Regions from separate parts of the Homo sapiens genome. Here region 2 is linked to region 1. The links come from fine-mapping of genetic effects on gene expression. A gene starts in region 1. The other region holds a variant in brackets. All regions are shown on one strand. Distances are between the middles of the regions. Region 1 holds the start of C12orf60 (chromosome 12 open reading frame 60). Region 2 overlaps ART4 (ADP-ribosyltransferase 4 (inactive) (Dombrock blood group)).

Region 1 (5,386 bases):
CCTGGGTGACACAGCGATACTCCCTCTTTTAAAAAAACTTGTTGAGTGTTCTGAGGAATTATCCTTAGACAGCATCTTGCTTCTTTGCTATGCATGAAGAAAAAGATTTCCTAGTCCCTTCTACACAGTTAGCAGACATTTTTTAAGACTTTCAGTAAAAATTTACCATTTTATTTTTCAGCGATCATATTGGAAATATGGCCCAAAGTGACTTCCTTTACCCAGAGAACCCAAAAAGGCGGGAAGAAGTAAATCGTCTTCACCAGCAGCTTCTTGATTGCTTATCTGACAGCTTCGATGTCACCAATAAGCTGACTGAGGTTCTAAATATGCACTTGGGGTGCAGGCTGGCCTCCATTGAGATGAAAAGAGATGGGACCATCAAAGAAAACTGTGACCTCATCATCCAAGCCATTATGAAAATCCAAAAGGAATTGCAGAAGGTTGATGAAGCACTAAAAGATAAGCTAGAGCCAACCCTCTATAGAAAACTTCAGGATATTAAGGAAAAGGAAACAGACAAAATTGCAATAGTGCAAAAGGTTATTTCGGTCATCCTGGGAGAAGCTACATCTGCAGCCAGTGCAGTCGCTGTTAAACTTGTGGGCTCAAATGTCACAACTGGCATAATTAACAAGTTGGTCACTGTGTTAGCTCAAATTGGTGCTTCTCTCCTTGGTAGTATTGGAGTTGCTGTTCTTGGCCTTGGCATAGATATGATTGTCCGTGCCATCCTGGGAGCAGTGGAAAAAACACAGCTTCAAGCAGCCATCAAAAGTTATGAGAAGCATCTGGTGGAGTTCAAATCAGCCTCAGAAAAATATAATCATGCCATTACTGAGGTCATCAATACAGTGAAACACCAAATGAAATGAACAGCCGTTTTATTTGCCACTGAAGTGTTTTTCTGCTTCCTTTTCAGTAACAGTGTTTGCTTCTTTGATTAGGTTCATTTTCTATAGGCTTCCAATATGGACTTAAATAAGATAAACAATTTGGAGAGGGAAACTGGAGATGCCAAGACTAGATGACTAGATGAGTTTTGAGTCAACAATGCCTGGATCAGCTGATGCTAGACCCTGTGAGGTAAAAAAATTTTCTCCCTGGATGTTTTCACACCCTGCTCTACCAGATCAACATTGGGGTAAATGCTATCGTAGAGTAGCAAGTATAGGGGTTACTTTTCTCTTTTCTAATTTCAGTAAAATTCTTAAATTTCACATTGAATGCAGAGACTTTCATTTCTACCACCAGCTTCAAACATCATTTAGTTATAAGGGGACATACTCAGTAACTTCTGCCTAGACACAAACTCTAGGCCTTCGAATGAGACAGAAATACTACCATATTTTTGACCATCAGAGTAAATCTGGTTTTCTGTAAACTAGAAGAGACTGAAAAATGGTTTGTAACAATGTGCTTCAATTAGGACAGGAAGCTGATCTGTAAACGTCTACTGATTACACAATGTAAACCGGATGGATTTGAAAATGGTAAAAATCAAAACTAAAAACATCAAGGTCCTGTTTCAGTCACTGCAATCAACCCTGACCAACTGTGATAATTAAATATCGCTCAAGTGAATGTTCAAACACTGAAACATTTAGAAGACAAGAAAGCAAAACACAGCTACACATATTGCATTTAGGATGCAGAATAGAAGGTCACTACTCAAAGCATTTGTCATTTAAAAGAAAGTCATAATTTATTATAAGCTTTCAGAAAAAAGAATATAATTTCATTTTCAACACTAGCAAAAAGGAGGCAGCTGCCTTTGCTACATGACGCATTAGGTGGGCCATTTCACTAATTACCTGATTTTAGAAAACGCCAAAGGCTATGGAAGCCTATTAATGGTTCCGCTGAATCTCTGCAGATGTGTTTGTTTTCTAAATCCTTTGCCAACCAATAATTCCCATGAGGACTCTTTTAGTCTATACTGACAAAATTATTAATATGCTGTTGATGCCAGACTGTGTTTGTTATAGTTGATTCTCCCATCCAAGTACAAGAAATGTATTGAAATAAAAACTGCTCAGCATATCTTAAAAATAGTAGCTACATATAAAATTTTAGCTACATGAAAGACTTTAATATTTCCAACATACACTGTTTTCTCTTTCTCTTCTTGCATTGTTTTTCAAAACGAGTTGCAAAACTATGATCACTAATGTGTTAGGAAAGAAAAAAAACTAGTTGCAAAACATTACAACTTAGCTCACCTTCGCAGTTCAAGATTATTTTCTTTTTTATGTACTACCTGGTTTATCAGCTTTAACCTACAATATCTCGTCATTGCTTTCTGACACTCAAATTCAGTCTAAAATCAAATCAAGAATTTCCTAACACAAAGGTAAGTTTAGGTATAGGACCGATCTTATACCTTCAAGGGCAGTTTAAAGATTCTGCTAAAAATTAGTATGTATCTCCATCAATATTTTGAAATATTTATAACTGGTGGTAAGAATAGCCTTCCTACATGGGATAGTCAGGTTAAGATTAGAAATAACCAAGCGTATCCTCTAAGATAGTTTTTTAAATGTTTAAACTTACCTTTAAGGGAAATAAGTGGGGGCTGACTCACGGAAAGAGGGGATAGAAGGTAGGGAAAGGGCGAAGGCTAGAGTTAAGTGAAGAATCCCGTACGTAGAGTGACATCATAGAGGACTTTTGGCTGGTGAAAAGACCAGTCGGGAATATAGCCAATATATATCAACCTTGCCACTCATATAACTTAAAACCGACTGCATATGTATCCCCGTATTTCTTCTTCAAAACACTACTAACAAATAATAAATCACCGCCCATATAAGCAATCTGCGACTCTAATACGGGTGCTAATTTATTTGTTCAGGTGGTCTACAAACGTTCTGTTCTGCCTGTCTATTAAATTTCCACACGTACTAGGCGCTCACATGGGATAACCTGATGCTTACAAAGCGGATTAAACTCAGTGGCAAATGTTATCTGGGTATTCGTTTACACACGGAGACACCCCTAAAGGATCGCACCTGCTTGGGTCATAAGAAACAGAAAAATGCAAAAACTAAGGTAATTCCAAAAGACAGAAAACGCAGAACGCTTCTTTATCTGCAGAATGTACCGTTCTCGGACGGCTCAACGTACCAGGCTCCCAGCAACTAAGTCAAGATGCCTCCAACTCGAGAGACAGGACCGTCAGCCACTCAGTTAGCAGCTATCTTCTTCTAATTCCTATTGTACTAGATGAGCGCAATGAGGCGGGCTCTTAGCCGACAACCAACCAATTGAGTATTGTATGGAACCGGAAGAGACTCTGGTCCTGGAATTCTTGGGTATTCTCTATGGTTCCAGGGTCAAGCGGCGCTAAGAGAAGGCGGGACAGAGGAATGGGAAATGACGTGAGGAGTGCGGAGGGGCGCGAGGTTTCAAGATGGCGGTAGCTGAGGGGTTGACCGAGAGACCCAGTTGAAGGCCTTTACGAAGTGAAAGAGGCCGGGAGTCGCCCCCTACCCGCTTCTCGTAGTCCTGGGAGCACAGCAGAAGTGTGAGTGTATTGAATTGATTTACTACTCTTCCTCACCTCTTTCGTCCCTTCCACGTCCCGCGCAGCGGCTTGGGGGACACCCAGCCCCTTTGCCCCGCTCCTCCTCTCCCTGGTTGAGGTCTCCCTGTTGCGGACTGGGCTATTCCTGGGCCTGGGGTGGCGCGGCGACCAGTGGTTGCGCGGTTGGCATCGCCCGGGTCGGTTGGGGCCGCTTCTTACGCACGTTGATTAGTAGCCTTAGGTTTGACGTCTTGTACCTCGAGTCATGGTCGGTCAGCCGTCGCTATGGTTTCGTCAGTTGCTGGTGTTGCCTCCTTTGGTGAACCTGGACCCTATCCCATTGAAGCTTCTTTGGCTGTTTAGAGTTATCCAACGCTTATTTGGCTTGATTTTCCAGTCGCCTCCGCTTGTAGACAAAAAACTAATCTGCAGACTTAAGCTCCAGTGTCTTCCGTAAAATTCTCTGTAATTCGTATCCGTTGTGTTTCATTTGTGGGGGAGGAGATTCAGAACATGAGCCTGAGGAAACTTGAGAAAGGAAAGCACAAAAAACGCAGGCAATCAAAGATGGGAGAGCTTGTATATGTACTGATTTTGCTTGTTTTCCTCCTTCCCTACCTCCTACTCCCTGCTGCTCTCCCACCCCCCTAACCCCCCCATCCCCAGTTTTTCTTAGAAGGAAACCACTTGACAGGGTGTATGGTAGCTAGGCCAGGAATATGGATCCATTATAAAGATTTTAGTTAAGTAGTGAGTCAAACATCACAGGATATTTTATTTGTAATCTCATTGTATCATCAGAGCTTTGTTATAAAGTAATTGATGTCCCCATTTTTTAGATGAGGAAGCTAAAAATCAGAGCCTTTGATACCGCTGTCTTGAAGTAATTGCCACCAGAACAGCTGTGAAACATCTGGCTTTCTGAAACATCTGGCTTTCGGGGCAGTTGGACACTTGGTGAAAGAGACATTAACTGTAATAAACTGGGCTGACAAAATCTTCCCTTTCTTACCTTTAAAAAGTGTCTACTTGCAAAAGGAAGCAAATTTGTCCGCCTTTATTACTGGAAAGACTGCGCTTCAAAAAATTAAGCCCCATTATTTTGGAATAAGAGGAAGAAGTCATGTAATAGGGTACTGTGTTAATAAAAGTTTTAGCTTACAAAATATTTTTTCCTCAAACAAAAATAAGTATTCCCTTTAATTACCTTAAGAAATATATATTGGGAGTCAGGTCTTAGTAAGAAAAATATGTGTCTTAATATTTAAGTTTTGGGGAGCTCTCAGTATAGCACTAATTTCAAATATTTGCATTTTTAGTTGTGTTTTGAACTCTTGAGAGTCAAGCATTATATCTGAACTAGAACTGAATCTGAATTAAATATGCTTAAATTAATGAGTTTTTAGTGTCTTAGAAGTATTGAGAATGTACAGCATACATGCCAAGAAAAACCATGGAGAGAGGCAAAGGTGAGGTATGTGTTTTGAGCCTAGATCCATTACCCCCATTCCCTTCTTATTCTTCTTTTACAATTACATGTTAATAAAGGGAGGTTATAGAAGAAGGACTAATGAATTCTGATGTTCATGGTTTGTGCCATATCGTTAAAGCATTTTCTAGTTGTTTTTATCAGTTGACAAAGTCAGTGCTGTGATCCATAAGAAAAAAGCTAAACTGATGACTTGAGGATATTCAAAGTGGTCTTCACACTCATCACATTTCTGAAGAATGATAGAGATCTAAATTTTCATGGTCAAGAAAGGTGATGCCATCTTTCTTGGACATTAAAGTCAAAACTAAGGAAAGAACAGTCTCACAGAATTTCTAATTAAAGGAATTTTTTTTCAGAGATTGGTAGGG
Region 2 (5,386 bases), 25 kb before region 1:
TGACCAGATTCAGAGCCAAAAGGAGGTCCTGACACACTGGAAGTGAAAAGTGAGGGAAAAAGAAGAGTGAAGAATGACTCCAAGGTTTGGCTAGAGTAACTGAAAGGATGGAGGTGGCACTCACTGAGATGGAGAAGCCTGGGGATGGAGTAGATTTAAGAGCAGGAGTTTGGTATTTGACATGTTATATCTGAGCTGTGCAATAGTAACCCAAGCAGAGATGTTGAGTGGACAGTTGATGCACAAGTGTAGAATTCCGAGTGACCCAGGATGGAAAGATAAATTTGAGGTCAGTGGGTTATGGGTGGTATTTAAAGCCAAGAGACTGGATGAGCTCCCCACAAAGGTGTATAAATAAAGGAGAGAAAATGTCCAAGGATCAAACCTCAGGACACTCCCATTTTAAAAGGTCAAGTACAAAGAAGATGGAGAGGCCAGGTGTGATGGCTCACACCTATAATCCCAGCACTCTGGGAGGCCGAGGTAGGTGGACTGCTTGAGCTCAGGAGTTCGAGACCAGCCTGGGCAATGTGGTAAAACCCCGTCTCTACCAAAAATACAAAAAAAAAATAGCCAGGCATGGTGGTGTGCACCTGTAGACCCAGCTACTTGGGAGGCTGAGGTGGAAGAATCACTTGAGCTGATGTTGCAGTGAGCAGAGATCACACTGCTGTACTCTAGCCTGGGTGACAGAGCAAGACCCATCTCAAAAAAAAAAAAAAAAATGGAGAAGGAATGGCCAGTGAGGGAGGAGAAAATTGATAGAGTTGGTGTCCTAAGAGCAAAATGAAGAGTAAGTATCAAGGAGGATGGAGTGATTCACTACCATAAATATGGTTGATAGGTCAAATACAGTGAGGACTGAGAATTGACATTACATTCCAGGAAGCTCAACATATAATCTCTTAAATCAGACTCTCTAGGTTAAATACTGGCTCTGTCACTTACTGTGTGGCCTAACAGAGACCCTTAAGCTCTCTAAATACTGGGAAAGGGTGGGACTGGAAATCCTTGTGATCTTTAGCCTCAGTGAAGAGGAAAAAAAAACAAAAATCGTTTGAGAACCATTCTAATGATTGACCTGCTAAAGTGGTATTAAGGCTTCCTAAGTCTCTGTAGGGATTCATATAATTTGATTTTAACACAAACTTTGACAAAAGTTTAGAAAGACATATGCTCTTAATTTTCCTTGCCAACTCTTATTGGTGAAAATTGAGGTCTTGAAAATTACTGTATCTACTCCAGCTTGGTGACAGAGTGAGAACTCCAACTCAAAAAAATAAGACAGAAATTACTGTATATATATATATATATATATATATATATATATATATATATATATATATACATACATACAGTACACACATACACACACAGAGTAATTTCTGTCTTTTCTGTCTTGGAATTTCTACTTGTATACACACACACACACACACACACACACACACACACACACACACTCCTATATAGAAATTCCAAAAAACTAAAAAATGTATATATTGTGTGAAAATAGTAGAAATGTATTTCTCCCTCATCTGGTTATCCTATCAAACAATATGAGCAAATATTGAGGCAATTAGAGTTGAATCTCTTCCTCCCAGAAACATCTTTTCTACCTTAAACAATAGTGAAAACTGGCTGCAAAGAGATTCCAGTCTTTATTTAGACTATTTTTTACAGGGTTTCCATCTCCCATCTCATTTCAGTCCCCACCCCATTATATGGCCAATTATTAGTTATATCTGACAATATTTTTTTTTATTTTCCAGTTTTGCTTCCACACCTAACTGGCTGCTAACCTGTCCCACATTTCCTGTGAAAGGTGTATATGTGTAGTTAGAACACACACACACACACACACACACACACACACACACTCCAAACAGGATTGTGTGAATATTTCTTGCTCACCTTGTAATGAAAAATTCTATGGATGGACATGTAATACACAGACAAACAGGTTAGTGGTTAAGAATGCAGAATTGAGACAAACTGGCCAAGTTTGAATGGTGCCTATACTATTTACAAGATGTGTGACACTGGCAAGTTTTTTCTCATCTCTGTGTCACAATCTCATCAAGTAAAAACCAAGGATATTGAGAATAAAAATCTCATAGGTTTGTTGTGAGGCTTAAGTTAATATATAGCAAGGGCTCGAAATAGATCCTAGCACAAAATCAGCATTCAGTCTGTGTTAACTTTCATAATGGTGATGAAGATGATGATAATTAAGATGGGGATAATGCTAACAGTGATTATGCTGCTGGTGATGATAAAGATGGAAAATTAGATCTCTACCACCAGCTGGCTGGGTTACCTGGGAGTACATCTTTTAACCTCTTGGTGTCTGTTTCATCATCTGCAAAATAAGCAAGTTATGTTAGAAAAATCTAAAATAATGTGTTTTAAGTAGCTAACTTCAAATGTTTTTATTAGGAATTTTCTAAGTTAAGTAAGTGGATCAATGGATAGATGAGGTAGTTTTAAAAAAAACTCTGCTACCTAAAATATTTCCTTTGTTTTGTTTTTTACAGCTTCCAGCAAGAAATGCATCCCTGATCCTATAGCTATTGCATCT[C/G]TCTCCTTTTTGACCAGTGTCATCATCTTTTCCAAAAGCAGAGTATAAAGAAATCTTGTGGCTCCTTTTATTTAAAAAAAATATTTAAATAAAATCTTTTTTATTGGCCTTTTGGCTAGAAATGGACATTTATTTTCCAGGAAGGATGATCCCATCATACTTCTGCTGAAACCAGTGCATGGCCTCCTCTTTGCTAATTCTCTTATGCCTTTCCTTGTACCCCTTTGCCTTATTTCAATCTGGGCACCCTAAGTACTCTTGGGGAAATCACTCTGCCCAGCTAGCAACTGATGCAGAGCTGGCTCAGCCCACTGACTGTGATTGGCCTGTAACTCAGGCCTTAGCCAATCAGTATATTTCTTCTTCATGGACACAAAGATTCATGCTGGAATAGAAAATGATCCAATCAGAGCCTGTGAGATACAATCAGGGTACTTTTGTGGAATTGCAATTGGAAATAGAATGGGAGCTTCTTTTCTGAATGGATATTAATGAAAGCAGGGTAGGAGCTTATAGCTGCCAGCAAAGATCCCGCCACCAGGAGAGGAGACCCCATCTCCTTGAGAAAGGATCTAACACAACAAAGGAAGAGCTGATAAGTGAAAAGAAACTGAGACCTGATGAGAATGTATAAGCCTCTGGATCCAACTTTGCCTAAAGCTGAATACTACAAGATTTTTCATTACATAAATCAATAATTTATGTTTTTGCTTGCATAATTTGAATTAGATTTTCTATGTCAAGCATCAAGCAGTTGAAGTTCCAACGAATACAAGCACTCTTCCTTATTTTTTTTAATTTAGTTATTCTAAATAGGAACAAATCAAAGAAGATTAAATTAGAAAGCAAAGGACAAATTCTTCACCAAACAGAAAAGCTTTGAACCCCAGAGATTAACCAAGGTGTGAATTTTCTTCAGAGATTTTTTATGAGCATTCAAGATTAAGCTAGTATGGCCTCAGATGAGAAGACACATGGAAACTTGAGAAATAAAAGGGAAAGTTAATGAAAGATGTTAGTGAAATTTCATTCACCAGCAGTAATGGGTGTTCATGCATGTTCCTAAGACATTACAAAAGTTAAAATTTAAACTCATATGTTAATTCATAGAGAACTTGATGGCAAATTTAAGTCTTCATAGCAAATTTAAATATTAGGAAAACATGAGGGTATGTGTGAAGGTTAACAGAGAGTATGAGAGAAAAAAACACTGATTACAAACAAATATCAGCAATATAGCGAGGTCTCATTACATGTAAACTAGTACATGCAAAGAAGTATAAATTGTTGAATTGTATAGCTGGAAATGTCCTCTAACGCTTCCCTCAGGTAGTAATTTAGGTAGCGACATAAGGGATTATTTAACCCGATCACGATCACTGAAGACCCTGGTATCAGGCTAAATGGAGTAAAGATGAGGGCTAGCTCTATAATTTTGGATTTTGAAAGTCCATGCTCCTTATCCCTTTTAAGATTTGGATAAGAAACAGCAAAACTGAAAATCGGTCCATCTATTTACTCTCCATAGGACTTCCTGAATGGCCTGTGTCATGATCAAAGAAATGGAATGGGGAATAAGCTACATAAAATTACCTGGCAGGGAGTTCAGGCATCTCTGTACTATCATTCTTTAAATTGGGATTTGAAACTAACAGGGCCAAATCACCTCTGTCACCTAGTTGCAGTAGCCTCTACAGTCAATAAAGGAAAGAATTTCTGCCAGGCATGGTGGCTCACCCCTGTAATCCCAGCACTTTGGGAGGCCGAGGAGGACGGATCACGAGGTCAGGAGTTCAAGACCAGCCTGGCCAGCATGGTGAAACCCCGTCTCTACTACAAATACAAAAATTAGCCAGGCATGGTGGCACGCACCTGTAATCCCAGCTACTTGGGAGGCTGAGGCAGGAAAATTGCCTAAACCCAGGAGGCGGAGGTAGTGCAGTGAGCCAAGTTCACACCACTGCACTCCAGCCTGGGCAACAGAGTGAGACTCGATCTCAAAAAAAGAAAAAAAGAAAGAATTTCTACAAACAGACAATTTATGTGACTTGCATAGGATAGGGTCTTTGGCAGTTTGGTGGCTACCTAGTAGAGAGTCCTGGGGACATGGCTCTGGGAGCAAGCTTTTCCAGTGAGCATCGATGAGTCAGTAATGACATGCTATGTTGGTAAAAGCCACCCAACATCTTAAGTACATTTTTCCTGTGCCATATAAATGCATGTATTGAGCCATACTGTGTACAAAGCACTTTGGGGATTAAAAGTTAAGAACACTAGGCCAGATCTCTCATGAGTTTACAATCTCTTAGGAGAAATTAAGAACATAAAGCAAGCCACAAGTGAAATGCCAAAAAAAAAAAAGGCAAAAATCAAGTTTTCTGTTCATAACAATTCAAAAGAAAGATTTCTTCCAACTGAGGCAAGAAGAGACACCCGGAAGGCTTTAAGTAAGAGGCTGCATTTGAACCAGCCGTTAGGGCTCTAGGCTGGGAGAAGGGGTGAGCAGAAGGAGAAAAAAACAAGAAAGAGTATGTGCCAAGTGCGTAGTGCCCAAAACAAGGCCAAATATTAAATGCTTGGAGCTGAGAGAAAAATGTGATTCCTCTGGCCTATGGTTAGATAAAGCTTTCTATCAGAGATGATGTTTTACTTAGAGGAAAGCAGAAAATAGAAGCGAATACGGAATGATCGATGTATGTACAGCATAAGGTCAGGGAGCAGATAGGTCTGGCAGAGAGTGAGGGGTAATGTGGGCTGGAGAGGAAATTGGAAGCCACTCAGTGAAGCTAAAAAGTCAGCCAAAAGCAT

The links.
Region 2: its variant is fine-mapped to the expression of C12orf60 in spleen (GTEx, PIP 0.99).

What each region holds. Positions count from the first base shown.
Region 1 is chr12:14,801,492-14,806,877 of GRCh38, reverse strand. C12orf60 (chromosome 12 open reading frame 60) reads right to left here and starts at 3,208. Exons shown (of 2, transcript NM_175874.4): 1 at 3,127-3,208. WBP11 (WW domain binding protein 11) reads left to right here and starts at 3,400. Exons shown (of 12, transcript NM_016312.3): 1 at 3,400-3,526. SMCO3 (single-pass membrane protein with coiled-coil domains 3) reads left to right here. Exons shown (of 2, transcript NM_001013698.2): 2 at 182-2,228. The coding sequence starts at 198. The coding sequence ends at 875. RefSeq lists an enhancer at 2,865-3,104.
Region 2 is chr12:14,826,611-14,831,996 of GRCh38, reverse strand. ART4 (ADP-ribosyltransferase 4 (inactive) (Dombrock blood group)) reads left to right here. Exons shown (of 3, transcript NM_021071.4): 3 at 2,535-5,386. The coding sequence ends at 2,626. Among named protein-coding and RNA genes, the nearest start is that of ART4, 14 kb to the left of the region's middle. The variant C/G (reference allele first, on the strand shown) is at 2,579.